7 linked regions of the Homo sapiens genome follow. The protein of the gene in region 4 interacts with the protein of the main gene of each other region in a pairwise test. Each region holds a gene or a part of one and is shown on either strand. Other genes may lie near its edges.

Region 1 (4,381 bases), on a different chromosome or scaffold from region 4:
TTTACTAAGAAATTATTGGTGACCTTTAGTATACATATACATATATAGAGAGAGAGATCGTGCAGTGGCACGATCTCAGCTCACTGCAACCTTTGCCTCCCAGGTTCAAGCGATTCTTGTGCCTCAGCCTCCCGAGTAGCTGAGATTACAGGTATGTGCCACTATGCCCTACTAATGTTTGTATTTTTTGTAGAGATGGGGATTCGCCATGTTGGCCAGGCTGGTCTTGAACTCCTGAGCTCAAGTGATTGGCCTGCCTCGGTCTTCCAAAGTGCTGGGATTACAGGTGTGAGCCACTGCACCCAGCCCTTCAGTACACTTTCAGTAGAGCTAATGACAAGAAAGGGGAATGAAAGTCAAATTATCAGGAAAAATAATAAAGAGAAAATAAGAATCTAAATGTCATAAACGAGACTGGATTAAAAAAGAAAAAAGGCCAGGTGTGGCGGCTCATGCCTGAAATCCCAGCACTTTGGGAGGCCGAGGCAGGTGGATCACGAGGTCGGGAGTTTGAACCAGTCTGGCCAACACAGTGAAACCCTGTCTCTACTAAAAATACAAAAAATTAGCTGGGTGTGGTGGCACGTGCTTGTAGTCCCAGCCACTTGGGAGGTTGAGGTGGGAGAATCAATTGAACTCAGGAGGTGGAGGTTGCAACAGTGAGCCGAGACCACGCCATTGCACTCCAGCTTGGGTGGCAGGGTGAGACTCTGTCTCAAAAAAAAAAAAAAAAAAAAAAAGTTGAAAGCTGGATGTGGTGGAACACACCTGTAGTCCCCCACTTTGGGAGCTTTGGGAGGCCGAGGCGAGCGGATCACTTGAGCCCAGGAGTTTGAGACCAGCCTGGGCAACGTGGTGAAACTCCATCTCCACAAAAAAAATACAAAAAATCAGCTAGGTGTGGTGGTGCACACCAGTAGTCCCAGCTACTCTGGAAGCTGAGGTGGGAGGATCACTTGAGCCTGGGAGGTTGAGGCTGTAGTGAGCCGTGACTGTGACCCTCCACTCCAGCCTGAGCAATGGAGTAAGACCCTGACTCAAAAAAAAAAAAAAAAAAGTAGTCTATTAATATACTTTTCTATATAAAAGCATTAAACCAAGAAGGATGGAAGAATATAAACCCATTTTATGATAGTGGAGTGGGGATGAGAAGATATGCCATTGGGGATGGTGGTCAAAGGGGATTTAATTTTATCTATGATGTTTCCATTTTTTACATATATCTGGAAATAAATATAATTGATGATGATTTTTAATTCTGGGCATTGGTCTGTAATTGTCAACATGGTGATGTGATTGAGAAAAAGAGGTCAACTGACAAAGAAAATGTGAAATTGTTTATACAGCATGCTCCTATCAGAGTATAGCTTCCTTGGTCTTCAAAGGGGTATACATCTGTGGATAACACTCTCACAGAGGCAGAATTCTAATTCACTATACCATTGTGGGAGGGGGCTGGAAGAATAGACCACTCTCTCTGCTCTTTCTGCCATCTGACCATTCTGGGGACATTCTGGCTACACTCCTTGCCTATTTACTAGATGCAAGTAAGTGATGCAAAACAACCTCAACAAATTAATGCGTGTTTATTTTAAGACGGGGGAAGCAGAAGTAGTTTCCAAAAGCATTTCTCAGTAGGTCCAGGCTTCAAATCAGAGGTCCATTCCTGCAGTTTGTTATAATATTCTTTGCATTGTTCTCTGTAAATTCACTCCTAACTTTGAGAAGTTTTAGAGAAAAATGAGAATGTCGGTGGTCAAAGAGAAAGTAATATATAACAACTTCTTATTAAAGAATTGAAGCAATGAAAGACAGAAGAGCTAACTAAGGTTCAAAAGGCCTGACATAAAGGGTTTGGGCTTATGAATGGTTATCATTTCAGGGAAATGATATTTGTGACACTGAAACATTCACGACACTAGAAAAATCACCCCCCTTTCCACCATTCTTGTTTCCCCACAACAACTTAAAAGGTTCAAATAATAAATTTACATAAAACACTTATAGTTTATAAAAACGAAAGGCAATCCAAAGAATATATATCCATATGGTCAGGAGTGGTGGCTCACCCCTGTAATCCCAGCACTTTGGGAAGCAGAGGTAGGTGGATCACCTGAGGTCAGGAGCTCGAGACCAGCCTGACCAACATAGAGATACCCAGTCTCTACTAAAAATACAAAATTAGCCAGGCGTGGTGGCACATGCCTGTAATCCCAGCTACTCCGGAAGCTAAGGCAGGAGAATCACGCGAACCCGAGAGGCGGAGGTTGTGGTGAACCGAGATCGCGCCACTGCCCTCCAGCAGCCTGGGCAACAAGAGCGAAATTCCATGAAAAAAAAAAAAATTCCATATATATATGTATGTATGTATATATATACGTATGTATATGTATTCTTTCCACCTACAAATATTACAGTAATCAAAGTTACCAATATAAACAAATAATAGCTAAACTAAAGTGAGTTATTTGCAAAGGACAAGGGAATTCAACTTCAGCTATTAAGAAGTTGCCACAGGCCAGGCACGGTGGCTCACGCCTGTAATCCCAGCACTGTGGGAGGTCAATTCCGGCAGATTACGACGTCAGGAGATCGAGACCATCCTGGCTAACACGGTGAAACCCCGTCTCTACTAAAAATACAAAAAAATTAGCTGGCCTTAGTGGCGGGTGCCTGTAGTCCCAGCCACTCGGGAGGCTGAGGCAGGAGAATGGCGTGAACCCAAGAGGCACAGTTTGCAGCGAGCCAAGATTGCGCCACTGCACTCCAGCCTGGGCGACTGAGCGAGACTCTGTCTCAAAAAAAAAAATAAAAAATAAATAAATAAATAAATAAAAGAAGTTGTCACCAGTTGGCCCAAGTGACAGAGTGAGACTTCGCCTCAAAAAAAAAAAAAAAAAAAAAAAAAGAAAAGTTGCCTCTAGTTTAAAAACCCTGAAAGATTAAATGGTATAAATTGAACATACCATTCATATTACAATTAAAATAGTCTTCACTTTGACAGTTTAGACAACACAAACACCCCTGGAATTGAAGCTCCATAAGGGCATTTTTGTTATGTTCAATTCACCACTATATACCAAGGGCCTAGAATAGTACTGGGCATATGAAGACACTCAGTATTTGTTAAATAAATTCAATAAGTGTAAATGTTTAATAATTGATTTACTGAAAAATAACATTTTTTTTTAAGACAGGGTCTTGCTCTGTTACCTGGGCTGTAGTACCCAGGGGCACAAACACAGCTCACTACAGCCACGACCCCCAAGGAATCCTTCCACCTCAGCTTCCTGAATATTTGGGACCACAGGCATGTGCCACCAGGCCTGGCCTAATTTTTAACATTTTTGTAAAGACTGAGTCTTGCCATGTTGCCCACACTGGTGTCTAACTCCTGGGCTCAAGCAATCCTCTCATCTCGGCCTCCCAAAGTGCTGGGATTACAGGCATGAGCTACTGTGCCTGGCCTAAATAAAATACGTAACTTAACCTAAAAGCAACAGAACAATATGTAACACACAGTTCCTTAGTCTTCACGAAGATAAAACCTGCATTAAAGAAATAAACAAATGAACAGTTATCTGAGCTAAATTCTGTCCCTCAAAAATTGCCACCAAAAACCAGGTTGGGGAGAAGCCAAATTCATGAAAAGAATTCTGGGTCCTAATAGGCTGACATATTTTAGTCTCTTGGCCCTGTTGGTATTCCTCAAGTGAACCATGTTGAGTATCTTTGTGTTCAACTTGCAGTAGGGCCAGCCCAGGTGAAGAAAGCTGTAAACATAAAGTAGATGGGGGAAAAATGGCCAAACTGGTTTACATTAGTCTTAAGTGCCTTCTATTTGGCTAACATAGAGTGTTTTGCTGTTTTATAGAGATGTATGTTTCATTTGCTGTAGCCCTGTGAAGTAGGGTTCTCATTTTATAAATGATAATATACATAGTGTCAGAATCTAAGTTCAAAGTCACATAGCTAGTAAGTGGCAAAATTCGAATTTCATACTTTCTATCTCTGAGCCCAAGCTTTACTCACTATACCCTACTATCTCTTATCATGAAAGATATCACTGACTTAGGACTTAGGGCAGTAGGTTTCTGCCATATCTAAAACATTTAAAAAGCTTTAAAATATAGATGCCCAGGCTCTACCCTACAGAAATTTTTGATCTTATTGGTCTTACAGTCCAGCATCCATGCATATTCTGAAATGCTCCCCAGGTAATTCTAACATGGAAGTAGGTTGCCAACTACTAATCTAGACAATAACGGTCTTTGAAAGTCATGTTAAAAATCTACCTTAAGGTATGTCAAAAGAGTACAAAGATGAGAGTAGTACAAAGATGAGAGTAAGCCAGTGTCATAGTCACCTACTTCAGTAAATG
Region 2 (4,381 bases), on a different chromosome or scaffold from region 4:
CCAGCCTGGCAGTGCCTCAGAGGCTGGATGGAGCCTCAGGGTCTGAGGTCTGGGCCCCTAACCCTAACACTGACCCTTGGTGACAGTCTTGACCTGTCCTCTCTCCACCCTCTTCCCTCCTCCAACACCCTCCTCCCTGAGCTGCCTCTTCCACAGCCCTCCATGGCTCCCACTTCCTCTGCCAAGCTGTGCCCCACCTGGGGGCCTCCAATCTCCTCTGCCAGACCAAATCCTTCAAGGCACCCATTGCCCCCCGCTGCTCCCCCCAGCCCTCAGTGATCCCCCTGCCCTCCTCCTATCACCCCCTGATTCCTGGGGTGGAGGATGGCCTTTCCACGTCTGTTGCTCCCTGCCCCCTCCAGCCCCCAGTGGAAGGCCAGCTTGCAGAAGCTGTGTCCCAGCGGCCCGCCTTACCCTCTCTGCCCTGCACACCCGCGGGCCCCACGCGGCCTCCTCATTCTTTCTGGTCTGACGTCGTGTCTCTGGCCGGGAGTCAGGGCTCACGGCTCCTGCTGCAGTCCTCATTTACTGGAACATGGTCCTAAGATAAGCAGAGACGTTATTTATTATTTACTGCACAAGTGGCACTCAGAGGAATGAAAATAAGAGGAGGAGAAAATTCTTTCCTGGAAGCCAGGCTGGCTTCCCGGGCTTGCGACCGGCCACGCTGTTGAGCAGACACCACTTTTCCTCTGTGGTGTCCCCAGTGCAGGTAAATCCTGTTCCCTGCTCGTTCAGAAATGCCATCGCAAGCAATTTCCTTTGCTGCCACGGTCTTCATAATTATCATCTTTAATGGCTGCATAATATTCCACTGGGCCGAGGTCCCGTCACTGAAAGTCACCCTCGATGATTGGGTATTCATGAGGGTTGCATTTTAGTATTGTCATTTGCAATGTTTGGAGGTCATGGATAAGGCTGCAAGAAACATCTTTGCTTTGTCTCCTTTCGGTAGCGGGAAGCCCTGGGGCTGGGGACTGGGAATTGTCAGGGCTCTGAGACCGGGTCCACAGAAAGGCTTCCCAGAGGGTCATGCCCACCTTTTTGGGCTGGTGCTGGTGGGGCGCCCCTGGGCTCCTGGGGGCCCACCCCTCAGCACGGCTCACACTCTCTCTCTGTGTCTCTCTCTGCACCGCGCCCCCGCCGATTCTGTGTCTCTATCTCTCTGTCTCCATCTCTCTGTCCCCCTGCCTCTCTCTGATTCTGTCTCTATCTTTCTATGTCTCTCTCTCTGTCTCCATCTCTGTCTCCCTGCCTCTCTCTAATTCTGTCTCTATCTCCCTGTTTCTGTCTCTGTCCCCCTTCCTCTCTCTGATTCTCTCTCTATCTCTCTACCTCTATCTCTGTCTCTCTGTCCCCTCCTCTGTTGCGCTGGTTGCTTCCTGGCTGTGAATGGCGCCTCCTCGCCTCCACCCCCGTGTCTTTGGCGGCAGAGGCTGTGCTCTCCTCATTCGTGCTCACCGGTGGAGCCCCCCAAGTGTGAATTTTCTCTCACAGCCTTGGCAGGGTTCTTGACTTTTGGGCACTCCTCCCTACAGAGGGGTGCAGTGCCTACCAGGCATCTGTGCAGGTGCAGGTGTCTGCCTTTCAAGGGCTCTGGGGGTGATGAGCCTGCCTCTCTTGCTTCAGGTCGGGAAACTGAGGCCAGAGGGGGCTGGGGCTTCCCTGGGAGCTGATGCCAGGCCAGGTCCTCCCTGCCCTGCTCCCAGCTGGATAGGGGGCAGTGTGGGGACCTCCTGCTGCCCTTCAGGTTCTCCCCTGCCCTGGGGTCCTTGGAGGGTACTGCCGCCCCTGCCCCTCACAGGGCAGGTGTTTGCATTTCCTGAGATGCTTCCCTGGCTCCCCGTGGTCCTCCAAGGACCCTGCCCCCAAGGGCTGAGAAGGGGGAGGGTGAGAGTGAGGGGCCTACATGGTCCTCAAGGATAACTCCTCCAGGGTCCCCCAAAGGGATGGGTGCCTCAGAGGTTCAGGGCAGGCCTGTGGGAGGAGTGGTTTGGGTGGATACTGCAGTGACTCCAGCAGCCGTGTGCCGTCCTCTACAGGAGATAACAGGGTGGCCATGACCACCTCCCCAAGTGGGCATAAATACTGCAGACAAGCAGAGTGCCCTGTTAATGATGTCTGGGAGGACACTGTCTGGACGGGTTCAATTATTTCAAAAGAGAGCAATTTTCTGCTATCGCCGGATCAGGTTTTTATTGCAAATAGGGTTGTGGCAGGAGCCGGCCATCCAGGGGGGTGGCGGGGAGGGGCGGCTTATCTTCAGGACCTGCTCTCAGAGAGTGGCTGTGGGAGAGGTTGTGCTTGCAGGCCCAGCTGAGCTGGGGCCCCGTCTCCTGGGGCCAGGTCACCTGGAATGTGGGCTCTGCGTGATCCCCAGGGTTAGGGAAGCCACAGAGTGCCAGGCCTGTCCTGGTGTTTTGGGGATGCTGCCTGGCAGGGCAACCTTGACTGCCTGTCCGTAGCAGGGCTGGGGCTGGAAGGGCTCTCTGGATGCCATTGACTCAGTTTCCACCCTGGGTGGGATAGAAACTCTGCTAAAGCCCAGGGTGGGGTTGGGGGTGGAGCAGAGCCCCCCAGTGACCTCTTGGACCCAGAGCCCGGGCTCTCCCACTGCCCGGCGGAAGGAGGCTTGTGCATTCGGGGTCATTTCCTGGGGCTGCACGGCCTGGGGCTGGCTGGCGTGCCCAGGGCCACAGCCCCTTGCCAGGCGACCCTGCAGCAGCATTCCAGGGGGCCCAGCCAGGTTCACTCCTCATGGGGAAACAGGCCTGGAGAGGCTTGGGCCGACGGAGTCACGCAGGGATGCAGGGCTGGACGCAGTCTCCCCCAGCTCCTGCCAGCAGCTCTCGCTATTCACCCCTCCTTGGCCTGGGGTCTGTCCAAGGGATGGTGGGAAAACAGTGTGTGTGTGCACGTGTGTGAGTGCACACATGTGTGAGTATTCCCCTGAGTGTGCAAGTGTGAGAGTGGGCACGTGTGTCAGAGGGCATGAGTGTGCACGTGTGGGGTGTCTGTGTGTGTGAATGTGTGCATGGAGGTGTGGCTATGTGTGCATATGTGTACTTGTATTTCTGTGCGTGCATGTGAATATGCATGTGTGTGTGTGTCCATGCATGTGCCCGTGTGTGTGTGTGAGTGTATCTGCGTATGTGTGGGTGAATGTGTGTGTGTTTGTGTAGAGTGTATGTGAATGTGCAGGCGTAGGCAGTGTGTTTGTGAGGGTGCCTGGCTGTGGCATTAACCATCTGTTGCTGAGCAGCATAACTTGGGGAGGACGCGACTTCGCCTTCTGGGGCACAGAGTTCTGCCGGAATGTGGACAGTCAGGACTTCCTACGGGACAGCACCTCCCCCTCTTCAGGTGTGGGCTCCAGAGCACCTTGTGTGACCACGTGTGACCTTAGGCAAGTCTCCTAATCTGCCTGGGCGTTGGTCTGCTCAGCTGTGAAATGGGGGTGAGGAGAGCAGCAGCCTCTGCGGGCTCGCGTGAGGGTGGGAGTCAGTGCACAGACCCGAGTCCGCACCAAGCCTGTGCTCTGTGCCATCAGCCACTGTTGGCATCACTCGGGGAGGGAATGTGCCCAGGAACAGAGCTCAGGTGGCTCTGGCTGTGTCTGGACAGTCAGGACATCCTATGGGATGACACCTCCCCTCCGGGAGCCCTGGGGCCCTCTCCAGAGATGCACCTTCCCCTGGGCCACGCTCTGCTCCCAGGCAGCCTCCCTGAGCCCTGAGGTCCCCTCTCCAGAGATGCACCTTCACGTGGGCCACGCTCTGCTCCCAGGCAGCCTCCCTGAGCTCCGCGGTCCCCTCTCCAGAGATGCACCTTCACGTGGGCCATGCTCTGCTCCCAGACAGCCTCCCTGAGCCCTGCCATCCCCTCCCTAACTGGGCTTCACGCTTCCCCTTCTGGAAGAGAGGTCTGGCTCAAGTCCTGGGCTCTGTCCTTCTTTGGCTCTGTGACCTCGGGTAAGTGGTGTGACCTCCCTGGGCCTCATTTTCCCCAGTGGAAGCAGGGAAGGAGTGGCTCTGGCATGCTCGGCAGGTGGGGGCGGGGAGGCCTGGGGCCTCTGGCAGGGACAGTGTGTAACTGGAGGCCTCGTGACAGATGGGAGATAAAGGGCGGAAAATAGCTTCAGAGCCTGGACCTGTAAGTGTCCCGCTAGGCCCGCTGCTGGGGAGGGCGCGTCCACCCGAGGGGACTCTACCCCCACTCTGGGAACAGGAACCCCATGGCGCCTCCCTTGGTGCTGGGGGGCTGGGGGGTTCTTACCAGCTCCTCTACTGAGAGGGGGCACCGAGCTCCCTGGCGGAGGGGAAACTGAGGCCCAGAGAGGGAGAACAGCCTGCCAGGTTTCAGAGCCTGGGTTGGGACAGAG
Region 3 (4,381 bases), on a different chromosome or scaffold from region 4:
CTAAAATTGGAAGGGAATAGGGGACAACTACAGCATATGCACTGAGCCAAGTCATATGTTAGGCAAAAGTCCATAAATGCAAATTAAAATCACTGTGAACTTGTCATTAGTCTTGTCATTTTCTGTGATACTAGTTTGCTATATAAAGCATACTCTCTCATGCTCTGAGTTTTTTTTTAATAATTAGTAATGTTCAAATTAACATCTTTTTTCTTCTTTTCAGCATGATCTATGTTTTGGTGAGCTCTTAGAACAACACACAGAAGAATTGGTCCAGTTAAGTGCATGCAAAAAGCCACCAAATGAAGGGATTCTATCCAGCAAGATCCTGTCCAAGAGTAGCCTGTGGAATCTGATCAGTTACTTTAAAAAATGACTCCTTATTTTTTAAATGTTTCCACATTTTTGCTTGTGGAAAGACTGTTTTCATATGTTATACTCAGATAAAGATTTTAAATGGTATTACGTATAAATTAATATAAAATGATTACCTCTGGTGTTGACAGGTTTGAACTTGCACTTCTTAAGGAACAGCCATAATCCTCTGAATGATGCATTAATTACTGACTGTCCTAGTACATTGGAAGCTTTTGTTTATAGGAACTTGTAGGGCTCATTTTGGTTTCATTGAAACAGTATCTAATTATAAATTAGCTGTAGATATCAGGTGCTTCTGATGAAGTGAAAATGTATATCTGACTAGTGGGAAACTTCATGGGTTTCCTCATCTGTCATGTCGATGATTATATATGGATACATTTACAAAAATAAAAAGCGGGAATTTTCCCTTCGCTTGAATATTATCCCTGTATATTGCATGAATGAGAGATTTCCCATATTTCCATCAGAGTAATAAATATACTTGCTTTAATTCTTAAGCATAAGTAAACATGATATAAAAATATATGCTGAATTACTTGTGAAGAATGCATTTAAAGCTATTTTAAATGTGTTTTTATTTGTAAGACATTACTTATTAAGAAATTGGTTATTATGCTTACTGTTCTAATCTGGTGGTAAAGGTATTCTTAAGAATTTGCAGGTACTACAGATTTTCAAAACTGAATGAGAGAAAATTGTATAACCATCCTGCTGTTCCTTTAGTGCAATACAATAAAACTCTGAAATTAAGACTCACTTTCAGTGCATTGTTTGAGATTAAAAATAGTATTTCTTAAACTTGCTTAATCCATGATAAAGACATGTTGCTGTCATTTTTAAAAAGTGACGTACTACATTATGGGTTTTCTGAAAAATACCATGCCTAGATCTAAAAAGGAAAATTTTTAAATGCCGAGCACATTAACCTCTTTTGTCATTTGACAAGATTCATAAACGTGGATGGCATAGCATCATCATTTCTCTTACCAATTAAGAAAAATTATGGTGGCACTTAAAATATTTTACTTTGATTTTTCCTTTTTGGAACAGTCAGTTTTAAGGTAAAATGGCTTGTAAATTTGAGTTTTTGCTGCTGCTTGTAAGGCAGGTAAATTATGGCTTGCATGTTTTCATAAGCATAAATAAATCTTGTGCTTTATTTGGGATGAGGAAGTTAAGGCAGTTGAAAATAAAATAAGTGGTTTGGAAGTTTCTTGAGAAGAGGATCAAAAGAAAGAGAACCAATATATAGAAATTTCACATGATCAAGGAAGTTTATGGATGCGTTTGTGGAAATCTTACTCTATGAACTTGTTGGATTAGATGCTGTTTTATTCTCTACTAAGTGAAAAGTGCTTTATTTCAGTGCTTTCCCATGGTTGGGAGAGAGTAGCTGTTAACTATTCTGGGTAATGGGGGTGAGTATGTTGAGGAAGAGATTTAGAACCAGAAGAGTGAAGAGACTCAAACTGTTCCATAACAAGGAAAGCTTTAAAGACCTTGTATTTCACAGTCTGGAGAACTAGAGGGATCTGACTCTTGGTCAGTTCATGTAACAAATTATTTATTGAGTACTTGCTGGGCTCTCAAGATTCATGCTTTGAGCACAGGCAGTCATTCAGTTTCCAGTCCACCTGATTACATCAGCATGCACTTAGTTTTCTTTCTTGTTCACAAGGACTTTTGATCATGCAAGACCTGGCCAAGTCTTCTATAATCCAGATGGGTTTCCTGGGGCTGTTACTTGAGTATTCCTGTCAAAATATTTTCGTGAACCCTGCCTCTCTTAGCAAACACTACTTCATAAGTGTTAACAAACATCCTTTTAATAATCTATTCCAGAATATTCTCCAGGAGTAAGTTTACTGGTTGGGATTTGTGGAAGCCATTTTCTCATGTTTCCCAAATAAGATATGTAGTCTTCAGCTGATTCCTCAAAGATGATTGACAGGGAGTTTCACCCATCTTTGTGGTAGTTTGTGAGTTCCTAGGCATGTAAGTGATTAAAAGATTGAGTACCTGCTCTCCTAATATCTACCCACTTTTACCATGTCAGTGTTTTATGAATTAGATCACTTACCAAGAGAAAGCAGAAACGAAATACTTGAATCTGACAATATCCGACTGGCTCTTTTCATTGCTCTGGATTTATTTTCCACATCAATCTCTTTGGGGTGGCCCTAGCCTATTATTCCTGTGGGTTCAGCTGAGGCATGGTTAGCCTGGGTTTATAATTCAGTTTACGTTAAACATTCCCTGTGCAGCAACAGCTGTTCATTTAGGTACTCTTTTTTTTTTTCTCCTTATTACAGTTACTTTTGGTATTATGTGCTTTATCTTTAAAAGCTTTCTAGCTCTAGGAAATTGTTTTCCCTGTTTGTGTCTATTTTATTGCATCTTGTGTAACACTGTGGTTATATCTATACCAACAACTTTTTGTTGCTATGGATACCACAGATTGTCCTGAATTAAAACCCTAACATAATAAATGTCTGTTTAGCCGTTACTTTACTGAGTAATAATACTATATTGTGGCAGTATGGCCCTTTAATACTAAGGAGGTATGGTGTAGAAATTATTTGAACACTCATATCCAAATGTTATTAATGATGTTTGACAGTTTTCTCAATGCTTAATGATATTCCTCACTCCTCATTCCAGGGTAGAGGAGGGTTTGGTCCCAGGCTATGGACAAACTGCTAATTTGTTTGAAGTTTGAATTATTTTTCATGGGAAAGGGAAGTGATAGGAAATGACCAAGACCATCCACTTTTGACTTGAGTATGGATCGAGTATAAGTAATAGTTTCCTAGCCTCACTGATTGTACCATGAACTGACAGACCTACCAGTCAAATTCATGTACCCAGATAATGGTCTCTCACATGGCAACAAAGTACACAGCAGTTTGCAGTATGTGTCTCTTTTAAAGCCAGTTCAGTGTTTTCACCTTGACGACCACTCCTGCAAACAGTTCTCATAGAGCTCTTCTCTGCTCCCCAAATCAATATATTTTGAAGCTATGTCAAATATTTACATAGAAAGGAAATAAAGTTGTATGTGCTTTGAAACCAGCAAAATCCTTTGTACAACACCTCTCTTCTCCTTCTATGTTTATGAATAGAGTTCGTGGAATATTGCCATAGTGCAAATAATGACTTCCGTGTATCACTTATACCCTGTAGGGGTGAGCTTTCACCTTAGGTGTGGTTATATCCTAGCAGTGTATCAAGCCCACTCAAATAATGGTCTATATTTAAAAGTATGTGTCTAGTTTACTTATTTATGTCATTTAACATCCATAAATGTACATCTCTCAGTTGTATATCATGATTGTAAATCAGAAATTTTGATGGCAAAAATATTCTAAAACAACATTCTTCAGGGGAAAGAAAAACATGGATACCTTATCTAGCATTGCTCATAAAAGTACTCATGTTCATCCTTTTTGGAAACTATTAATCATGCTAGCCTTAGATCATTTTAAGCTCCTTTGCTCAAACCAATCATTGATGTGCAGTATGACCAGCAGCTAGTAAGTCTGTGGTGCTACCAGTATAGCTTGGAAGATGGTTCTGAATTAATACCTCAGAATGATATCAAAAGTAAAAGAGTGGTTCTATTGCTAAATATATTGACTAGCTTTCTTATAACAATTTTACTTTGAAATTCAAAGTTCCAAAGCTAAATGTCTAAAAGAAGTAACTGCAGCTTGTTCTGCTGATTTTGGAAAATAGTATTAACCATGTAAGATCTTTGGGGTTGGAGTGAAGGTCTTATCTGCATTAATTTTGTTAATGCACATTGTAGATGTGGAGAACATCTTGACCTGCATAAGGATTGCGTCTCATTTTATTGTGTAGTGCTTTTTCGAAATATTTACATTTCTTTGGTTCCCATGTTCATGTATTCTGGAGAAGTAAAATTTCTTGATTACTGGGCAGACCCTAAAACTACTAAGAGAAACATAACATGTAGTTAGCTGTCTGCTCATGGTTTGTT
Region 4 (4,381 bases):
CAGTCACCCACGCTCTGCCTGCAAGACCCTTTCAAGCTCCCCACCCTGCCAACCTCCCCATCTGAGTAGACCCAGGACCACATCTCACCTTAGGTTGATACCCTAGCCCAACCCTTCCTGCACCAGCCTCAGTTTCCCCATCTATTGTGTTTTTGTTGGTGGTAGTGTTTTTTTGTTTGTTTGTTTGTTTGTTTTTGAGACAGTCTCACTCTATTGCCCAGGCTGGAGTGCAGTGGTGTGATCTCAGCTCAGGTGCAACCTCCGCCTCCCAGGTTCAAGTGATTCTCCTGCCTCAGACTCCCAGGTAGCTGGGATTACAGGCACATGCCACCACACCCGGCTAATTTTTGTATTTTTAGTAGAGTCGGGGTTTTACCATGTTGGCCAGGCTGGTCTCAACTCCTGATCTCAAGTGATCCACCCGCCTCAGCCTCCCAAAGTACTGGGATTACAGCACTTTGGATTAATTTATTAAATACCCATTACCCTCTACCACAAAGAAGGGACCTAATCTGAACCTTTAACCATCTGGCCTCTGGGCCCAGGCCCTCAGATTGACTTGATATGAATGGCAAAGATCCCATCACCAACTGGGCCTAGGCTGGCCTTAGGGCCCAGATCTGCATGGGAAAAGTGTGGAGCCAGGGAGCGGAAGGTGGGGAGCCTGCCCAGGAGGGTCCTTGCAGCAGCGACCTCCTGCTCTGGTCTCTCCTGGCCACCCCACCAGCCCAAGGGAGGCCCAGTCCTGTCAGCTCCTACCTGGCACCAGCTCTGAATGCCTTACTGGTCTCCAGCCTTCAGTGGAGCTCTCTCCAACCTAATCTCAAGGTAGCAGCCTCAACCCTGACCCTGTCACTGCTCTGTTCGGCTCCCTAGACCTGGCCTGGTGCAGTGCGGCTCACGCCTGTAATCCCAGCACTTTGAGAGGTGGAGGCAGGTGGATCACCTGAGCTTAGGAGTTTGAGACTAGCCTGGCTAACATGGTGAAACGCCATCTCCACTAAAAATACAAAAATTAACCAGGTGTGGTGGCGCTCGCCTATAATCCCAGCTACTTGGGAGGCTGAGGCAGGAGAATCACTTGAATCCAGGAGGCAGAATATGCAGTGAGCCGAGACCGCGCCATTGCACTCCAACCTGGGTGACAGAGCAAGACTTGTCTCAAAAACAAGTGGGGGGTTGTGCCACATCCACTAACAGGCCCTCCCCCTGTGGCCCTGCCACCCCAATCTTGGTTCCCGCGCTAACCACACTCAAGTATGCTTTCCATGGATGGTGCCTGGTCCTGCCATGCCTCCAAAGTCTTCAAATGTGCAGAGCTCACCAGCCAACCTCAGACCGGCCCATGCCTACGCCTATTGGTCCTTTTTTAAAAATTAAATTTTATTATTATTTTTTTCACAGACAGGGTCTCACCCGTTTGCCCAGGCTGGAGTGCAGTGGCCTGATCATGCTCACTACAGCCTCAAACTCCTGGGCTCAGGTAATCATCCCACCTCAGCCTCCAGGGTAACTCGACAGGTATGTACCACTGCACTTGGCTCATTTTTATAGAATTGCTGTAGAGATAGGGTCTTGCTTTGTTGCCCAGGCTTGTCTCGGAACTCCTGGCTTCAACTCCCGCCTGGGCCTCCCAAAGTACTGAGAGGATGGGTATGAGGCTGGCCTATTCGGGCATCACCTTCTTGGACCCTCAGAGTCTGCTTGGGGGCCTCCTGGGGGTCCTGCAGCCCCTGTCTCTGCTCCCCTCTGGCTCCAGCTGACCACTGCACTCCAGGCTGGGCTACAGGGCAAGACTCCATATCAGAAAAAAAAAAAATTAGAATGGAGATACTAGTAACACCTATTGCACAGGACTGTTGTGGGGATGAAATGATCCGGCACAGAGTAAACCGCTAAGAGAGGGGCTGCTGCTCTTATCAGTTTCTGGTTGTCAGCCCAAGGCCTGGCATAGAGCAGACATATGTTTGTTGACTGAAGACATGAAGGCAACCTATTCCCAGAGGACCCACTGTGAGGTCACTGCAGCTGCAGATACAGGAAACTGGACTGGTTTTTATTATCTTTTTTTTTCCAGCAAACTTGCAAATGAGTAGTTGAAACCCTTCTTTGGTGAAGGAAGACACACCTAGCCATGTGTCCCCACCCAGGCTACAGCCCGCACTTAGCCTCCTACACACTCACCAGTGGAAACACCAGGCGCCAGTCAGAAGCCCTATTTTACCCTAAGAGGTTAGGATGCAAATCTAGTATGTGCAGAAAAGAGTACCACACCCACGGCCTTGAGGGCACCTGCAGGGCTCCGAGTGGGAGGGAGGGCAGGTTCTGGACAGAGCAGCCTACATTTGGTGAACAGCTCTGCACTCGACAGCTCGCCTATGGCTCATCTGGAAGATGGGGAAACGCCATCTACCTCCCAAGCCCCTCCCAGGTTGCCCAGAAGCACAAGCAAGTAGAGATGTGTTCTGCTCAGCCCTCAGCAGGTGTTCGAGGGCCGAGGCTGCAGGAGTGTCAGAGCGGGGTTGGGGGCAGAGGTGGATGGGGCTGGACCTGAGGATGAGGTCGAACTCCTGGTAGGGACCCTCAGACTCTCATGACCTCGCCCAGTCCTGTCAAAGCCAAGCAGGCGGGATCTGACACTTCCTGTTTCACAGGCAGGCAAACCGAGAGGGTCAGGGGCCACGCTGGGGTCACAGGGAGGGCCAGCTGAGTGGGCCCAGCTAGAAAACCCTGGTCCAGTCTTCCACGTGCCACCCTCCCAGTCACAGCCTGGCCCTGGACCATGAGGGTGGGGTGGCACAAAGCCCTTGGAGCGCACACAACTCCAGTGTAACCCAGCAGGAAACGCCCTGAGCCTGCAGCCAGGCTGGACCTCAGTTCCACCCCCTGCTCGGCCCCTGCTGTGTGAGGCAGAACAACCAGCTCACCTCTGAGCCTTGCAGAAACAGCCGGGCCTCCAGGGCTGCTGAGAGGATGAAAACATACACTACTGCCCATTTTCCACCACCTAGCAGGGGCTCCATAAAAGCTGGTTAACACAATCAACAGCCTTAGAAGAGAGGAGACCAGAGGCCACTCACAGCTCAGGACGCCACGGTGGACTGAACATGTTGCTGCCTTTCTGGAGGGTAGTGTGACCATCAGCATCCACCAGTCACACACGCACATGACCTTTGATTTCTAGGGATGCATCCCACACACACCCCTGCATGGACCTGGCAGCCTTGAAAAATTGAAGCCATAGATCACAGGCACCGCTGTGCTGTCATCACAGCCCTTCGGGAGGCCGAGGCGGGCACGTCGCACGAGCCCAGTTCAAGACCAGCCTGGGCAATACAACGAGACCCCCTCTCTAAAAATAAATTAACAATAAAAAATTTTAAAAATATATGAAATGGGCCAGCCGCGGTGGCTTACACCTGTAATCCCAGCACTTTGGGAGGCCAAGGTGGGCAGATCATGAGGTCAGGAGTTCAAGACCAGCCTGACTAACATGGTAATAAAACTCCGTCTCTACCCCGTTTCAAAAAAAATTAGCCAGGTGTGGTGGTGCGCGCCTGTAATCCAGCTACTCGGGTGGCTGAGGCAGGAGAATCGCTTGAACCTGGGAGGAGGAGTTTGCAGTGAGCCGAGATCACACCATTACACTCCAACCTGGGCGACAAGAGCGAAAAACTCCATCTCAAAAAAAAAAAATATGGGCCGGGCGCGGTGGCTCACGCCTGTAATCCCAGCACTTTGGGAGGTTGAGGCGTGCAGATCACAAGGTCAGGAGATGGAGAGCATCCTGGCTAACACAGTGAAACCCTGTCTCTACTAAAAATACAAAAAAAATTAGCTGGGCGTGGTGGCGGGCGCCTGTAGTCCCAGCTACTCGGGAGGCTGAGGCAGGAGAATGGCTTGAACCCTGGAGGCAGAGCTTTCAGTAAGCCGAGATCATGCCACCACACTCCGGTCTGGGCGACAGAGTGAGACTGTCTCAAAAAAAAAAAAGAAAAAGAAAAAAAAAAATCCGTAGTATGTACCTTGTTTCCTCAAGTTTCAAGAAAAAAAAAAGACAGCTCACTTTTTTCTCTTTAAACACTGATGTGTAGCTAGTAACTTGGATAAAAAGGTGCCACCCTACAAAATGTGCTCAGCGTGTTCTGATTCCAGGATGGGCTTGGCTGCCTGGGCTGGGCCTGGGAGACCTCCGTCCGTCACAGTGGAAACTGAAGCCAAGTGCCAGTGCCGCATCCGGCTTCAAGATCTAGAATCAGAGCCTTTGAAATGGAAAAGGGGCATCTGAAACGGCACCCCCACCTGCGGCTTTCAGAGCTAAGGCTCCAGAATGAAGGGGTCACCTGGCTAGTGACAAGATGGGAGTCACCCTGAGCTGCAG
Region 5 (3,203 bases), on a different chromosome or scaffold from region 4:
GCTCTGGCTGGGTGCAGTGGCTCACGCCTGTAATCCCAGCACTTTGGGAAGCCAAGATGGGTGGATCACCTGAGGTCAGGAGTTCAAGACCAGCCTGGCCAACATGGTGAAACCCCGTCTCTATTAAAAATACAAAAAATATCTGGGCATGGTGGCGGGCGCCTGTAATCTCAGCTACTCGGGAGGCAGAGGCAGGAGAATAGCTTGAACCCGGGAGGCAAAAGTTGCAATGAGCCGAGATTGCGCCACTGCACTCCAGTCTGGGTGACAGAGTGAGATTTTGTCTCAAAAAAATCAAACGATCAATCAATCCCAGCTTTGCATGCACTGTGTCACCTGGGCAAGTTACTTAATCTTTCTGTGCCTAGTTTCCTCCTCTGTGAAATGGAGCTAGAACCTGAGCACCAGTTCACACATGGTTGTCAGGATCCAGCAGGATGCAGGTGAGGGTGTGGCACCGTGCCCGGGCCCTGGACAGTACCCAGCAAGCCTGAGCTGTTTTCATTTCTGCTGGTGGCAGCAGGGCTGAGATGACTTCCTGCAGGAGGCAGCAGTTATTCTGGGCCAGGAAGAAACTTGAGAATAAGGGCAGATCGTGGAGGGCCTTGCAACCACAGGAAGATTTTGTTCCTCATTTGGGTGGAGGCAGCGGCAGTCCTTCTGGCTGTGATGTGCAGAATGGTGGGGAGGGAGTGACACCAGGAAGGCGGCTGTCCCAAAGGTCTGAGCAGAGAGTTTGGGGCAACAGGGAGGGAGCAGTGGAAAGCAGGCTGATATTCAGGAGATAACCAGGACTTGTAAGACTGTGGGCATGGGAACTGAAGGGGATGCTCTGCAAAGGGCCTGGGCCCACCTTGGCTCCTCCCTCACTTCTCAGCCTAGCCAGGAGCAGAGAATGGGACAGTCTTAACCCTAGACATCCCAATGGGCTTTGGGCCTTGGGGTGGAGAGAGGATGAGAAAAGATGTCTGGGCTTTTGCAATCGGGAGGGATGCCTGGAGGAGGCAGAGGTGTTGAGAGGCAAGGGGAGGGAGGAGATCTCAGGTACAAGGTTTGTTCCCTGGGTGGTGGCTGCAGCCACAAAGTCTGCCAAGCAAGGTCCAGCTCAGGCATGTCAGGATAGGACTCGGCCCCCGATCCCTTCAACAGTCCCCAATGCCACTTGGGCTGCCAGGCCCTGTGCTGGGTCCTGGGGACACTGATGGCTCTGTCTGCCCTCAAGGGGCTTCCCAGGGAGCCGGACAAGCAAGGGGCTGAGGCCTCCTGGAGAAAGCATGGTAGTGGAGTCGGCGCAAGGGGCGGGGTGAACACAGAGGATGTCAAGGAAAGACCCCACGAAGAGGTGGCATCTGAACTGGGCTCTGAAGGCAGAGAAGGAACAGGGGAGGCACAGGAGTGGTGGGCTGGGGGGCTTGGTGCCCCAGCTGGGGGTGCCTTGTGCAAAGGCACCAAGGCAGTGAGAACCAGGAGCAGGGCTGGCCTGGCCAGCAGGGTCTGGGTGTGGAGAGCCCAGAGTGCCAGGTGGAAGGGTCTGGCCTTCTCCAGAGGGCAGCGGGAGCAGTCTTGGCTGGGAGTTCTGTGGGCCAGAATGTGACTGGGAAAAAACATGGCAGGGATTGCCCCACTCCTCCCGTGCAGACCTCTCAGGCCCTCCCATGCCCCCTCCACTGGCCAGATCAGGAAATGAGCCCAAGGTTGCTCAGAGCAGGAGCTGGAGGCCCAGCCTCTAGCCTTCACGCCTACCCCAGGCCGGGTCACCCTGTGTGGTGTTGATATTCTGGGCTGGGGGGGAGGGAGAAAGGAAGAGCATTCACCTCAATTTATCTGGAGATATGGAAGAGGTTGTGAGGCTCCAGCCTCCAGCTCCACACACTCTGCCCTTCCTCTGCCAGGGCAGGGACTGGGAACAACCTGAGACGGCAGCCACACCTGATGCCACTCTCCCTACCCCTTGCAGGTATGAATTTGGCCCAGCCCTGTTCGTGGGCTGGGCCTCAGCTGGCCTGGCCGTGCTGGGCGGCTCCTTCCTCTGCTGCACATGCCCGGAGCCAGAGAGACCCAACAGCAGCCCACAGCCCTATCGGCCTGGACCCTCTGCTGCTGCCCGAGAGTACGTCTGAGCTCCGCCTGCCCTGGCCAGCCCCCCACCCAGTGGCCCCCTTGCCCAGCATCCAGCCAGCCTCGCAGCACCCTGGGCAGGGCCACTGGGGCATAGGATGGGCATAGGTGCTCTGAGCAGCTTGTCCTCAACACAAGCACCCACCCTGCAATCTGAGACCCAGATCCTCAGAGAGACACCAGAGGCAGGACCCAGCCCCCAGGCATACACACAGATGCAGGTCCAGGCACGGTCTTGTCTGCACAGCCTGGTGGGCACCAGCATGCATCCCTGGAGACAGGCCCTCAGGCACCAGCCCGGCTGTTTACTCACTGAAGAGCTGCTTGGGTGTCTGCTACGTGCTGGGCCCTAGAGATAGAGCAGTGGCCAAGACGTACCTTAGTACCCAGGTCCTTGGGGTGAGCAGAAACCTTCACCCTCCCCAGTCCCATGGGCTCCTCACAGCAACCCCACAAGGGCAGTGCCGGGATGCTGAACGTTCACACAAGGACAGGGAGGGTCTGAGTTTAGGTCTCAGGTTCTTCCAGTGCGCCCAGGGCTGGGGGCCACCTACACAGATGGTGAGGTCGGACCATGGCGCCCCTGCCCCCGGGAATGGGCCCCAGGCAGGGCTGCTGTGAGGGCCAAGGTCTGGCCACGCTGGCCAGTACCCATGTCCGGGCCTGAATGCACAGCCCCTGCCCCCGACCCCACAGCTCACTCCACTAACCAGCTCTCTCTCTTTTGACTTTCAGACCAGTTGTTAAATTGCCCGCCTCCGCCAAGGGCCCCCTGGGTGTGTAATGTCCAGTCCCCAGCCAGGCTCTGTCCCCTGCCATACCTAGACTGTGTGTTTCATATTTTTTTGGAAAGAGAAGTGAACATCCAGCCCCAATCATGGTATCATTCGGTCTGTCCTCAGCGTGGCTTGGACGGGGCCTGTGTCAGAGTGGTCAGTGCTGACCCCTGGGGCTCTTGGGCAGAAAGATGAGGAGACAGAGGTCCAGGGTGGGTTACATAGCACATCCAGGGCTAAGCAAGAAATAATTCAGAGGTCCTACCCTCTGTCTAGGGACCCCCCTCCCAAGCCTGGCCTTGGCCTTGG
Region 6 (3,514 bases), on a different chromosome or scaffold from region 4:
ATTGGCGGGTGGCCTGGGGACTCAGCCAGCTCTGATGAGATCTGGGACTGGAGAGCGTGGGGGCCTCGGTGAGGGACAAGGGGGGTCGTGGTGGGAAGAAACGCCCCGGGAGGCTGAGTACTTGGGGTCAGCCCACAGTCAGAGCTCTGAGTTTCTGTTCTGGTTTGGGAGGTCGTCCTAGATGTGGCCAGGCGTGTGGGTCTCTGAAGTGGAACCTAGTACTGCAGGTTCTGGAGGGGAGGTGGCAGGGAGCTGGGGGGTAGGTGGTGGCCATCGCACAGGGGAGCAATCGGGGACAGGGGGACGGCCCTCAGCAGGGAGGGAGAGCCGGGTTCTCTTGGTGCCCTGAGGTGGGGGAGTTTCAGACAAGACTCTGGAGATGGGGGGGAACACTGTTTCCTCCGGGGGTCAGGATTCCGGAGCAGGCGGCCAGGAAGGCTGGGCATGGCAGGGAGTGGGTCTGCAGCCTCCAAGGTCAGAACCCGATGCCAAGGCCCTGCGGAAAGCAGCGGGTGAGGGGGTGGGGTGGTGGCCCAGGCTCTGGCCTGGCAGGCTTGGCTGAGTACCGGTGGCTTGTCTGTCACTCGGGCTTCTCCTCACCCCGCCACCCCCTTCCCTAGATTGTACCTGAGCCTGGTTCTGGGGAACGTCAACGTCACGCTCCTGAGCAAGCAGGCTAAGTAATCAGGCCGAGCCTCCACCCCCCAACCTCCACCCCTCCACCCCTAGCCCCCTACCCCCCTCCCCCCCTCAACCTCCACCCCTCCACCCAGCCTTCCCCCGGAACCCGGCCTTCCCCTCCACCCCCCAACCCGGCCTTCCCCTCCACCCCCCACCCCACCCGGCCTTCCCCTCCACCCCCCACCCCACCCGGCCTTCCCCTCCACCCCCCCACCCGGCCTTCCCCTCCACACACCCACCCGGCCTTCCCCTCCACACACCCACCCGGCCTTCCCCTCCACACACCCACCCGGCCTTCCCCTCCACACCCCCTCCCCGCCTTCCCCTCCACACCCCCTCCCCGCCTTCCCCTCCACCCCCCCACCCGGCCTTCCCCTCCAGCCCCCCACCCGGCCTTCTTCCCCTCCAGCCCCCCACCTGGCCTTCCCCTCCAGCCCCCCACCCGGCCTTCCCCTCCACCCCTCCACCCGGCTTTCCCCCCAACCTGGTTTTCCCCTCCACCCCCCACCCCACCTGGCCTTCCCCTCCACCCCCCAACCCGGCCTTCTCCTCCATCCGACTACCCTTGGCTCAGCTGCCCTCCCGGGGTGGGGGCACACATGGGCCCCACCAGCACCCCACCCGTCTCACCGGCCTGCGCCCCCCAGGTTTGCCTACAAGGACGAGTATGAGAAGTTCAAGCTCTACCTCACCATCATCCTCATCCTCATCTCCTTCACTTGCCGCTTCCTGCTCAACTCCAGGTGGGCGTCCCACCCCGGCCGAGGACCCACCCCATCCCCAGTCGCTGCAGTACCAACCCTCGGTCCCCTCCCTCCGCAGGGTGACAGATGCTGCCTTCAACTTCCTGCTGGTCTGGTACTACTGCACCCTGACCATCCGGGAGAGCATCCTCATCAACAACGGCTCCCGGTGGGCAGGGCGGGCCCTGAGGGAGGGGAGCATGGAATGGGGTGCCAGGACCCTCCGGGAAGCAGGAACAGGCGCTGGGGGTGATGGTGGCTCTCTGCTCCAGGATCAAAGGCTGGTGGGTGTTCCATCACTACGTGTCCACCTTCCTGTCGGGAGTCATGCTGACGTGGTGAGTGGCTGGGCCCCGGCAGGGGCAGGAGCTGGGACAAGGAGGGGATACACGGCATCCCCAAGGGTCCCCACACTGCCCTCCACTTTTTACCTTAGGCCCGACGGTCTCATGTACCAGAAATTCCGGAACCAATTCCTCTCCTTTTCCATGTACCAGAGTGAGTGTCCCAGATGTCTGTGCTGAGCCCTGGAGGCACCCGTGGTGGGGGGCAGGGGCAGGGAACCCCTCCCGGGGCTCAGCCCTGCTCCTCTGTCCTCCGCCCGGCCCAGGCTTCGTGCAGTTTCTCCAGTACTACTACCAGAGCGGCTGCCTCTACCGCCTGCGGGCGCTGGGCGAGCGGCACACCATGGACCTCACTGTGGGTGAGTCGGGAGTGGCCCTGGCATCTGGACATTCCCCTTTCCTCCCATCCCGGGTCTGAGTGGTAGCGTCCCCTCTGTCCCTGGCCGTCCTGTGCCCTGACCTTCCTCCCCGCAGAGGGCTTCCAGTCCTGGATGTGGCGGGGCCTCACCTTCCTGCTGCCTTTTCTTTTCTTTGGACACGTAAGTCGTGCCTCTGTGTCCCTGCCTGTCTGTCTGTCCGTCCTCTGCGCCGGTTTCGGGCTCCAGCAGGGACTGGGTCTTCTGAGTAAAATGCCTCCTCCCTGCTTAGTTCTGGCAGCTTTTTAACGCGCTGACGTTGTTCAACCTGGCCCAGGACCCTCAGTGCAAGGAGTGGCAGGTGAGCCGGGGTCCCTGGACAGGATGGATGGGGGGCCAGGCCCATGTCCAGCCCTCACCCTATTCCTCCGGCAGGTGCTTATGTGCGGCTTTCCCTTCCTCCTCCTTTTCCTCGGCAATTTCTTCACCACCCTGAGGGTTGTGCACCACAAGTTTCACAGTCAGCGGCACGGGAGCAAGAAGGATTGAGGCTGGGCCTTCCCCTGCCGGCCCAGAGGGGCTTCTGTCCTGTGTGTTGTGGGAGGGGATGGGAGGCGCCCCTCGAGTGTGCGTGTATCAGGGGGTCTCTTCTATTCTCCCTTGGGTTTTATGGGCGCTGTGGGCCCTGAAGGAAGACCTGGGCCCAGTGCCCTCAATAAAGAGAGGCCCAGAGGTGGCCTGAGCGTGTGTGTTCTCCTGGGGGAGGGGAGGGCTGGGTGGCCCCACCACATGGGTTCCTGGGGTCTGAGTTAGTTAAGTTGATGCAGGTGGAGGTCCCAGATCTACTCACACAATACCAGGCAAATACAGAAAACAGAACTTTATTCCAAGGGCCAGAGGTTATTTAAAATTATTTACACTCACTGGAAATCACGTGGAGGGGCTGGGCCCAGCTCAGCAGAGAGAAAGAGCCCTTCTGTGCAGCCACCGAGGGCCAGAGGCCTCCAGAGGCATGGAGCCCGGTGCCCCCATGCAGGCCCTGGGCTGTGCTGCCAGGGGCCGGTGGACCTCACCTGGCCTGGGGGCTGAGGAGGATGCACCCCAGGCCCAGAGGAGTCTTTGTCACTGGGCCTGCGCCCATGCCAAGGCCAAGCCAAACACACCCAGGAGACTACGGGAGGGAGCCAGGAGAGCTGATTACAGGCCGGAGTCTGTGGGGTGGGTGGGGCAGGCAGGCCCCTAGCTCCACACGTCCAGGGAGTAGCGGCCCTTGGTCATCAGTTTCTTGATGTAGTCCACCGCCTGCGCGTGCTCCATGGCCCCGAGCTCAGCCACGATGTCGTAGAAGGTGTTCTGCACATCCCTGGCCATGTTCCGTGCATCCCTGGGC
Region 7 (4,381 bases), on a different chromosome or scaffold from region 4:
AGACAGGGTCTCGCTGTCACCCAGGCTGGAGTGCAGTAGTGCTATCTCGGCTCACTGCAGCCTCGATGTCCTGGCCTCAAGCCCTTCTCCCACCCCTGCCTCCTGAGGAGCTGGGACTACAGGCTCATGCCACCATGCTCGTCTAATTTTCGTATTTTTTGTAGAGATGGGGTTTTGCCATGTTGCCTAGGCTGGTCTCAAACTCCTGAGCTCAAGTGATCTGTCCACCTTGGCTTCCCAAAGTGCTGGGATTACAGGCGTGAGCCACTGCACCCAGCTTTGTTTTGTTTTTAAGACAGAATCTCACTCTGTCGCCCAGGCTGGGGTTCCATGTTTATGTTTATTTTTATACACCACCAGGGCCTACTACTATATAGAACTTAACAAATATTTGTTGGGTTAATAAAATGTTATCCCATTTATGAGATGGTTCCTAAAGTAATATTCTCATTTATGGTGACAGTTTCTAAAAACACATATAGGCCGGTGCCGTGGCTCACACCTGTAATCCCAGCACTTTGGGAGGCCAAGGTGGGCAGATCACTTGAGGTCAGGAGTTCGAGACCAGCCTACCTAACATGGTGAAACCCCATCTCATAAAAACTAGCCAGGTGTGGTGGGAGGGACCTGTAGTGCCAGCTACTCCAGAGGCTGAGGCAGGAAAATCGCTTGAACCCAGGAGGCAGAGGTTGCAGTGAGCCAAGGTAATGCTACTGCACTCCAGCCTGGGCGACAAAACAAGACTCCATCTCAAAATAAATAAATAAATAAATACACATATAAAGCTTTAAAATAGGGCTGGGCATGGTGGCTCACACCTGTAATCCCAGCACTTTGGGAGGCCGAGGCGGGTGAATCACCGGAGGTCAGGAGTTCAAGCCCAGCCTGGCCAACATGGCAAAACCCCATCTCTACTAAAATAGAAAAATTAGCCGGGCATGGTGGCATTCACCTGTAATCCCAGCTACTCAGGAGGCTGAAGCAGGAGAATCACTTGAACCTGGGAGGCAGAGGTTGCAGTGAGCTGAGACCATGCCATTGCACTGCAGCCTGGGCGACAAGAGTGAAACTCTGTCTCAAAAAAAAAAAAAAAAAGTTTTAAAATATCACAATGTTATTTCAAGTTACTCTTTTGACAAATGACTATTTATACACAAGTCAATGGCTTCCAAATTTTCACTTGTAATACCCAGTAAGGAAATAATTTTACACTGCAATCCAATAAACACCATATACATGAGATATTATAGGCCAGGCACAGTGGCTCATGCCTGTAATCCCAACATTTTGGGAGGCCAAGGCGGAAGGATCACTTGAGCCCGGAGTTTGAGGCCAGCCTGGGCAACATGATGAAACCCCATCTCTACAAAAAAAATACCAAAAAAATTAGCAGGGTGTGGTAGTACATACCTGTAGTCCCAGCTACCTGGGAGGCTGAGGCGGAGGATTGTTTGAGCCCAGGAGGCAGAGGCTGCAGTGAGCCAAGATGGCACCACTGCACTCAAGCCTGGACAACAGAGCCAGACTGTCTCCAAAAAAAAGAAAAAAAAATACATTATATATAACTGAACAAAGTTTCACAAAATTTTACCCTTGATAAGAGAGATGCACTTTGATATTTTCTATCAATGTCATAAGATATTACAATCATTTTTATGTGATTTTTCTAAACTACTAAATGGTGGAAAGATAATGACATGTACTACTTTCATTCATGATTTCAACAACTCATGAATGCACTGATTCAAACAATGCAAAATTAATCTGCCAGGGAAAGACAATTCAATTATATTACTAATTCTAAACTACCACATTCAAACTCCAGTATCATACTCTAACCAGTCATTAATCAAAAAAATGGTAAGCTACAGACACAGGACACTTAAGATTAGGAACCTCTTGCTAAAGGAGGGGCCCCAAAGTGACATCAGATTGGAAAGAGAAGGATGAATACCAATGTAAATCTTCCCTCTCTCATCTAATAGCAACCCAACTCTTGAAGACTCATAAGCCAAAAACTTTGGTGTTATCCTTGACTCATTTTTCTTTCATTCCCCAAATCTGGCGCATCATTAAATCCTATTGGCTCTTCCATCACAACACATCCAAAATCTGACACTTGTTCTGGTACAACCCACTATCTCTTGCCTAATTACTAAAACAGCCTCCTAACTGGTCTCCTCAATTCTGCCCTTGTCCTCTTAAGAAGGCAAAGCCAGCTGGACTTCCTGGGTGGAGTGGGGACTTGGCAAACTTTTGTGTCTAGCTAGAGGATTGTAAATGCACCAATCAGTATGCTGTAAAAATGCACCAATCAGCACTCTGTGTCTAGCTAAAGGATTGTAAATGCACCAATCAGCACTCTGTAAAAATGGACCAATCGGCACTCTGTAAAATGGACCAATCAGCAGGATGTGGGCGGGGACAAATAAGGGAATAAAAGCTGGCCACCCCAGCCAGCAGCATCAACCTGCTCTGGTCCCTTTCCACACTGTGGAAACTTTGTTCTTTCACTCTTCACAATAAATCTTGCTGCTACTCACTCTTTGGGTCTGTGCCACCTTTAAGAGCTATAACACTCACCGCGAAGGTCTATGGCTTCATTCTTCAAGTCAGAGAGACCAAAAACCCACCGGAAGGAACCAACTCCAGACACACTCTTCCTTCAGTCTTTCACAACAATGTAGTCAGAACGATCCTATTACGCCATTAAGTCACATCATGTCACTCTTCTGCTCCAATGATTTCCCATCTCAGAATAAAAGCCAAAGTCCTTCCTAAAACCTGTGAAGTTGTACATGATTTGTCCTCCCCTGATCATTCTGATCTCATGTGCAACTATTCAACCACTGTGGCCTCCCTGACTGTTCCTCAAACATACCAGACATCCTCCCATCTCAAGGCCTTTGAACTTGTTTCCTCTGCCAGGAATGCTCTATGCTCTTCCTACAGATACCCTCATGGCTAGCTCCTTTACTTTGCTCCTGGCCTTTACTTAGTCATCTTCATAAAGTTATCTCGGCACCATCGCTAAAATTTCAAACCCTCCTCCTCACACCACATAAATATTCCACAGTCCTCTTCCCTGTATTATTTTTCTTTTTTTTTTCATTTGTGACGGAGTCTCACTCTATCACCAGACTGGAGTTCAGTGCCACAATCTTGGATCGCTGCAACCTCCAACTTCTGGGTTCAAGTGATTCTCCTGCCTCAGCCTCCCAAGTAGATGAGAGTACAGGCACATGCCACCATGCCCAGCTAATTTTTGTATTTTTAGTAGAGATGGGGTTTCACCATGTTGGCCAGGATGGTCTCAATCCCGACCTCATGATCCATCCGCCTCGGCCTCCCAAAGTGCTGGGATTACAGGCCTAAGCCACCGTGTCCAGCCCCCTGTATTATTTTTCTTCTTAGCACTTACCACTACCTAATGTAGTATATATTTTAGTTATTTACTCTGCTTATCGTCTGCCTCCTGTGCCATGTAATCTCCATGAGGGCATAGCTGTTTATTCACTACTAAATCCCCAGCACCTAGAACAGTGTCTAGAACATAGTAAAGGCTTAATAAATATTTGAATAAGTGAATGAATGAATAGGCTTGGAATGAACAAGAAAACAGAATAAATAAGAATAGCTAATTAGGCTGAGCACAGTGGCTCACACCTGTAATCTCAGCACTTTGGGAGGCCCAGGCAGGAGGATCCCTTGAGCCCAGGAGTTCCAGACCACACTGGGCAATAGTGGGACCCCAATTCTTTTTTTTTTTTTTTTTGAGACAGAGTCTGACTGTCGCCCAGGCTGGAGTGCAACGGCACCATCTTGGCTCACTGCAACCTCCACCTCCCGGGTTCAAGCGATTCTCCTGCCTCAGCCTCCTGAGTAGCTGGGATTACGGGTGTGTGCCACCACGCCCAGCTAATTTTTTTGTATTTTTAGTAGAGACGAGGTTTCACCATTTTGGTCAGGCTGGTCTGGAACTCCTTACCTCATGATCTGCCCACCTTCGCCTCGCAAAGTGCTGGGATTACAGGTATGAGCCCACACCCAGCCAGTGGGACCCCAATTCTACAAAAAATTTTAAAAATTAGCCAGGCGTCGTGGTGCACACCTTTTCCCAGCTATTCGGGAGGTTGAAATAGAAGGATCACTTGACCCCAGGAGACTGAGGCTGCAGTGAGCTGCACTCCAGCCTGGGTGAAAGTAAGACCTTGTCTCAAAAAACAAAACAAAAAAAACAAAACTGCAGGTAAAGAGCTGCAGCTCAAGCTCCAAGAGAAACCTTGGCACATTAGTGATGTCTCTGGCTATATCAGCATGTGGTTGAAACAGGTTAGTTACTTCTGGAATCTTCACAGAGGAAAAAAAAAAAGAAAGAAAC

Evidence for each region.
Region 1: the proteins of BIK (region 4) and MARCHF5 interact in binary tests that used the Homo sapiens proteins (3 or more experiments, as listed by UniProt).
Region 2: the proteins of BIK (region 4) and C14orf180 interact in binary tests that used the Homo sapiens proteins (3 or more experiments, as listed by UniProt).
Region 3: the proteins of BIK (region 4) and CNIH1 interact in binary tests that used the Homo sapiens proteins (3 or more experiments, as listed by UniProt).
Region 5: the proteins of BIK (region 4) and CLDN19 interact in binary tests that used the Homo sapiens proteins (3 or more experiments, as listed by UniProt).
Region 6: the proteins of BIK (region 4) and TMEM120A interact in binary tests that used the Homo sapiens proteins (3 or more experiments, as listed by UniProt).
Region 7: the proteins of BIK (region 4) and CYB5B interact in binary tests that used the Homo sapiens proteins (3 or more experiments, as listed by UniProt).

The regions. Positions count from the first base shown.
Region 1 is NC_000010.11:92,293,843-92,298,223, reverse strand, and holds part of MARCHF5 (E3 ubiquitin-protein ligase MARCHF5), read right to left. Parts: intron 1-4,381. UniProt on the Homo sapiens protein: Mitochondrial E3 ubiquitin-protein ligase that plays a crucial role in the control of mitochondrial morphology by acting as a positive regulator of mitochondrial fission and as an important regulator of immune response.
Region 2 is NC_000014.9:104,582,575-104,586,955, reverse strand, and holds part of C14orf180 (nutritionally-regulated adipose and cardiac enriched protein homolog), read right to left. Parts: intron 542-4,381; 5' UTR 526-541; coding exon 415-525; intron 1-414.
Region 3 is NC_000014.9:54,423,684-54,428,064, reverse strand, and holds part of CNIH1 (protein cornichon homolog 1), read left to right. Parts: intron 1-223; coding exon 224-251; 3' UTR 252-4,381. UniProt on the Homo sapiens protein: Involved in the selective transport and maturation of TGF-alpha family proteins.
Region 4 is NC_000022.11:43,116,989-43,121,369, reverse strand, and holds part of BIK (bcl-2-interacting killer), read right to left. Parts: intron 1-4,381.
Region 5 is NC_000001.11:42,734,785-42,737,987, reverse strand, and holds part of CLDN19 (claudin-19), read left to right. Parts: intron 1-1,957; coding exon 1,958-2,110; coding exon of another isoform or gene 2,111-2,226; exon of another isoform or gene 2,227-2,853; coding exon 2,854-2,902; 3' UTR 2,903-3,203. UniProt on the Homo sapiens protein: Forms paracellular channels: coassembles with CLDN16 into tight junction strands with cation-selective channels through the strands, conveying epithelial permeability in a process known as paracellular tight junction permeability.
Region 6 is NC_000007.14:75,986,331-75,989,844, reverse strand, and holds the end of TMEM120A (transmembrane protein 120A), read left to right. Parts: intron 1-620; coding exon 621-680; intron 681-1,328; coding exon 1,329-1,424; intron 1,425-1,503; coding exon 1,504-1,593; coding exon of another isoform or gene 1,594-1,696; coding exon 1,697-1,762; intron 1,763-1,860; coding exon 1,861-1,922; intron 1,923-2,034; coding exon 2,035-2,127; intron 2,128-2,242; coding exon 2,243-2,307; intron 2,308-2,416; coding exon 2,417-2,485; intron 2,486-2,559; coding exon 2,560-2,673; coding exon of another isoform or gene 2,674-2,813; 3' UTR 2,814-3,014; downstream 3,015-3,514. Other genes in the region: POR (NADPH--cytochrome P450 reductase), read right to left, coding at 3,364-3,508. UniProt on the Homo sapiens protein: Multifunctional protein involved in mechanosensation, and plays an essential role in lipid metabolism and adipocyte differentiation. May function as a potential ion channel involved in sensing mechanical stimuli.
Region 7 is NC_000016.10:69,427,388-69,431,768, reverse strand, and holds part of CYB5B (cytochrome b5 type B), read right to left. Parts: intron 1-4,381. UniProt on the Homo sapiens protein: Cytochrome b5 is a membrane-bound hemoprotein functioning as an electron carrier for several membrane-bound oxygenases.